2 separate regions of the Homo sapiens genome follow, and region 2 is linked to region 1. Evidence: fine-mapped expression QTL. Tissue or cell type: thyroid. Region 1 holds a variant in brackets; the other region holds the start of a gene. All regions are shown on one strand. Distances are between the middles of the regions.

Region 1 (2,757 bases):
GAGTAGGTCCTCAAAAACTGTCAGTAACCTTCCCTCTTAAGGATTTCCTAGCTCTCGAGTCCTCAAATACTGAACAGTAAGTTTCCTACCCACCAGACTGGCCAAAAGTTACACATTTTGGCAACACTAAATGTCTGGTAAGCAGGCAGGGCCACAGGAACTGTTCCACAACACTAGTGAGAGTTTATGTTGGTATTGATCACTGTGGAGTCCAGTTTGGCAACATATAGTAAGGCTGGATATTTGCAGATCCCTTGACCTAGGAATTCCACTCCTAGATACACCCTCTAGACGCATTATAGCAAGAAGACAAGCAGACTGGTAGGAAAGTGTTAATTGAAGTAACAGCACAAACTTGCAACATCCTAAATGCCCACAGCATAAAAATGAATACATAACTGGTGGTGTATTAACCTGGTGGAATACTCTAGACTTCAGACTTGAACTGACTGAACTGCAGCTCTCTGTATGAAAACAGGCAAATCCCCAAAGCATAACATTGAACAACAAAAAGGGTAAGTTGGCCAGGCATGGTGGCTCACACCTGTAATCCCAGCACTTTGGGAGGCCAAGGTGGGCAGATCACCTGAGGTTGAGTTCGAGACCAGCCTGGCCAACATGGTGAAACCCTGTCTCTACTAAAAATACAAAAACAAATTATGTATGGCATGGTGGCAGGTGCCTGTAATCCCAGCTACCTGGGAGGCTGAGGCAGGAGAATCGCTTCAACCTGGGAGGCGGAGGTTGCAGTGAGCTGAGACCAGGCCATTGCACTCCAGCCTGGGCAACAAGAATGAAACTCCATCCCCCCCGCAAAAAAAGAAAGGGTTAGTTGCAGAAGGCTGTCTGTATAAGGACATAATCATTTGTAATTTATATGTATACATATTATATATTATTATATAATAACAGCTTTATATTATACATTAGGCATGAACTTTAAGAATACATACAGTAATATAGCTATTTATGGAGAGAGTATTTGTAGTAATAAAATAAAAACATGCCTGGAAATCATAGCCAAGTTCAGAGGGAGGGAAGAAAGAGAAAGAATTGGGGAGGGATACACAGGGGACTTCGACTGTGTCTATAACAGTTTCTACTTTTAGAAAATAAAATCTGAAGAAAATATGGCAAAGTGCTAAAATGTCCTAAACCTAGGTATCAGGTACATGGTGCTCACTACATTACTGGCTGAGCTTTTCTGCTTGCTAAAGTCATGCACCAATTTTCAAGGTCTCTAATATTTGATGAATTTCATGCCGGGACCCTTGGGCGCAATATTTTAAACCACCCTTTAATTAACGAACTTGGCTTGCTTGGCTGTAAACACTTTCCACCTACTCTCAAATCCTGCCCTGCCCATCTGTAGGAAACACTCTTGGGGCTCTCACCCCACTTCCCTGAAATCTTGGAGAGTCCCCTCGGTCCTCGCCCCACTTTTCTGGAATGT[T/C]GGAGAGTCCACTGTGGTTCCATTGAGTGTCTGTTTCCGTTTGTTTTAGGAGTCATCTGACACCCAGCCCACCCCAGGAACATTTTGCATACTTCTCCCTCACCCCTGGAGAGGTTTTGAGTGCTGTCACTGGACCAGAGAAAACATTGTTTTTCTCACCAGGTGACTCTTCTCAGTCACAGGTACCAGGAAGCCTGAGGACACTTGCCAGAATCAAAGGCTTTCCAGAAAGGTCATTGTTAGCAGGCCACGCCCAAAAGGGGAGACACTGTGTCCATCAGCTGGGGGTCTGCTGGGGCCCCTGCCTCATCTGCACCCTCAGGAGGTTTCTGGGGGCTGCTGCCTGCCTTTTTCAATAGCAAAAACCAACTCCAGCATTTTAAGAACTGTACAAGTGGGGGCAGAGAGCAATCATCCCTCCAAGTTATTTCTCCAAATCCACACTAAAAAAGCACTTAAGGAAATATCTAATAGCTTGGTCTTTGGTCCTGATCAGAAAAAACAAAATCATCTTTCATTTTTCTATATCAGAGGTCCCCCCCGCCCATGCCCACACGCATGCAGTTCTCCTCTGCCTCCTCCAACTCTTTCTAAACATGAAATGAGAACTCATTATCTCCATGTGGAATTCTGGGAAGAATCAATGGAAAGGTAGGACGGCAGGCAGGTGGCTGAGTCTGTCTTGGTCTTGCCACCTCTCAACACTGGACTCCACTCACCATTCCAGAGGGCACCTTTGCAAGGGTGTTCCCCCTCCTAGATTTCCACACTGAACACCAACAGGGGCTACTCTAAGTGCTGGCCCGATGGCAGCAAGTCAGGCAAAGAACTCTTTGCCCTGACAGTGCTTACCCTCTAGTGAGGAGAGAGATGATTTAATAAGCAAACAAATAATCACATCATATAATTGCAGGGAGAGACGCGTGCTAGGCAGAAAAGCAAAGTGGGAGAATGAGAGAAAGAGGGCCTGGGCAAGGAGGCTAATACCTCGTCTGTAGGATGAGGAGGCCTCTCTAATGAGGCAGTTTTGAGCACAGGGGACATCTCAGCACAGGGAGGTTAGGCATGTCTTAAGAAGAGGGACCTAAGAGGAGGCTATGGGAGGTGCAGGTGGCAATTCAGCCAGGGGCAGACTATGTCACACACCGTGCTGTGAGAGCGAGGCCATGGCTGCCATTTACAGAAGAAGAAACAGATGGTCTAGGTGGTTATCGGGTTCACCAAGACCACACTGCCAGTTTGTGCTAGCTGAGCCGGGTCATCTGACTCTGAGAGCTATGCTTTGAGTTACTCCCTGCCATCTC
Region 2 (2,757 bases), 210 kb before region 1:
TCCCCAAATTACAAAAGCAGAGAAGATCATGATCAGCGGGCATGGGACAAAAGAGGCAATCTTTTTTATTTTTGTTTTTCTTTAACAATCTGAAACAACGGCCACTCCTACAAGCACAGTTTTCCAAGAATACCCAACCCAGGACAAGTTAAAGAACTGCCAGCACACAAGGGAAGAAGGAAAAAGGAAAGAACGACAAGGCCCAGAGCGATCAGGGCTAACACAGAAACCCCCTGGGGCACCCAAACAGGAAGAGGGGACTCGAGTGATGAAATCCACAAGCTGCTTCCATGAAATCAACATGTTTGAAAAAGGGACCTCCTCAAAGAAAACGAGATTCCAACTCTCTTCAGCGCAGTGCGAGCCACCGGTGGCAGGCACCGTTGCAGGGAACCTGAACTAACTCCATGCCATGCAGCCCCCAACTTTCTGGCCTGAGGATGCGCAGTCCCCGAACCCAACCACTCCTGTGCACATCTCCTTGTAAGTTATCTCCCCAGCCTGCTCACCCATTTGTGGCTTGGAAAACATAAATTGCGGGCTTTGCTCCCCAAGACGGCTGAAGGACGGACCCTTCGCTGATGGCCACGGGCCCTAATAGAAACAAACTAAGACTGTCTCCTAGGCACCTTAAATAACTGCAAACAAGCACTGTACCACGTGGAAGTCACACTTGGGTGGGGGGCAGTGTCACATCACCAGGCAGCCACCACAAACCTAGAATTTTCATGGTCCTGAGATGTCGCATTCCCCTTCTTATAAAGAATGGAAGACGGCAGCCCAGGGGCTCACAGGGACTAGCGTTGTCACATGGCTAGTTGGTGACCCAGCCACAAAGAGCCTAGCTATCCTGATTCCTAGGTGGAGATTTCTATCCCCTGGGCCTTTCCTCTTCCAAACCACGACTCTCAAAACAGTGATCATTTTAGAATCCACAAGTGTGGCTGATTAATAACACTGTCGATCGTAAGAGTGTAGCAGCAAAAGCTGTAATAAAAGCAATAACCGTAACATTAAGAAGAAAACAACTTGAACATTGTGGAGAGCTTTGTGTTTTTCACTTCTGCGGCCCAAAGCCAGCCAAGTTCCTTGAAGTCAGCACCGAGAGGTATTTGCAAGAATTAAGTGAATCAAAGTCCTTGAAAGAGCGAGGAAGCGCCCCTGCCCCGGCGGCGGTACTCACCAGCGCTCCCTCCGCAGGTGCTGGGCTGGAGGCGGCGGCCAGGTGGAGCGCAGCGCCCCGGGTATATATGGCGAAGGTGTTGCGCAAAGAGGCTGGCCGCTGTCATCACGCCCCTCGCACATTCCAGGACCGCCTGCCGCAGCCGCCGCCGGGGCACTGCCTACCTGCCGCCTTAATGAACCCATCGCGACTTCGCCCGCTGCGCGGAGAAGACGCGCGGCCAGCCAGGCTGCCGAGAGAAAAGCTCCGACGGGCCCCGCCGCGCGAACTGGCCCGAACGGCCCCAAACGGCCCCGCGCCCCTCGGCGCCCCGCGCGCCCTAGCCTGGCTGGTGCGCGCCCTCTCCCGCCCCGACTCGGTCCGCACGAGATTCCCGCAAGTGGGGCTCTCCCGCCCCTGCCTTCTCCTCAAGAACTTGAACCTTCTAGTCTAGCTCCTGTGAGGCTCAAGAGGTCAGAGACGTGAAGACACAGATAAAAGCCAGTTGGAAAGTCAGGGATAAAGCCCTTGGAAACAAAGCCTGGATTGTTCACCTTTATCAGTCTGTGGGGCGCTTTCTGCCCTGGGAGTCTGGGCTCTAGGTCCGCAATGGGAAAGGCTGGGACCGTCAAGCTGAGGAAAAGGAAGGGGGCTGTTCTCACCACTCCGTCCTAAGCCTGCTGCGGGTTTGGCAAACCACTGCGCTCGTTTCACATCCTGCTCTGCCTCGTGTCACCTGCGTGTGTATACAACAGTTCTCCAAACTGCTGTGAGATAGGATCTGTCCCAGGGAGAGTCCACCCCCATGCTTATCCCAACAGCTCCCCAGTTCTGTGCCGGGCACTGCTGGGCAGGCTTTGTCTCCAATGTGCACACGAAAGCCTTCCCTGGGGCTAAGACTGGCGCCCTCTCTAGCTGAGGTTTAAGGGGTTAGGGGATATGATACAATTACCCAGGATTTGCTGAGCAGGAAGAAAACCTGCTTCTTATTCTGAAACCCAGACCCTCTCCTCTGCTGCGCACTCTCCTGGTTTTATAGTGGAGCACAGTGAGGCTCAGTGAGCTTACTAGTTGCCCAGCTCCTCACAACAGCGGAAGCACCCTACTGGAATTAGCTGGTTTCATTCCAACATCGAGTTCTCTCCACTGTGCAAGGGGAAGGACTCGGGAGCACGACTTCCAGGAGCCTAGAGCTCTGGGGCTGGTGTTGGCGGTGGCTAAGCACACTGACTCTGGGCCGAAACTCCGGGAAATCAGTTCCCTGTTCTGCCCCTTGCTTTCCCTGGCTCCATTTGCTTATGTGCAAACTGGGAATAATGGTCCCCGTTGGAGTAAAGTGAGCTAAAATATGTAAAGAATGTGGAATGGTACTTGGCACATAAATAGTATTCAGTGCGAGTTAACCATGATCGTTTTCACAGGGAAACTCTGGTGTTGGGAGAAGATGGGTGGGAAGCCTTGATTAGACTCATCTAGAACCTTCACTGGAGAAATCAAATCTGCTTGGGTTGCTGTTATTACAGGGATGATGGTTTTGCTAGTGGGTGTTGGCCTTCAGATCCAACTCTCAGACAATGATCAACCAGTACCTTTGC

Alleles and levels. Positions count from the first base shown, and alleles are read on the strand shown. Sizes are in standard deviations (SD) of each study's normalised expression.
With allele T in place of C in region 1, the expression in thyroid of the gene that starts at base 1,223 in region 2 is higher (small effect, 0.21 SD a copy in GTEx).

What was found. PIP is the estimated chance that this variant, and not a neighbour inherited with it, causes the effect.
Region 2: SLC34A2 starts here. The variant in region 1 is fine-mapped to the expression of SLC34A2 in thyroid (GTEx, PIP above 0.99). The same link has a PIP of 0.9 or more in lung.

Annotation. Positions count from the first base shown.
Region 1 is chr4:25,445,568-25,448,324 of GRCh38, reverse strand. All of the region lies in intron 3 of LOC105374536 (a long non-coding RNA gene), which reads right to left. Among named protein-coding and RNA genes, the nearest start is that of ANAPC4, 70 kb to the right of the region's middle. The variant T/C (reference allele first, on the strand shown) is at 1,454.
Region 2 is chr4:25,654,317-25,657,073 of GRCh38, reverse strand. SLC34A2 (solute carrier family 34 member 2) reads right to left here and starts at 1,223. Exons shown (of 13, transcript NM_006424.3): 1 at 1,184-1,223. RefSeq lists an enhancer at 860-1,773.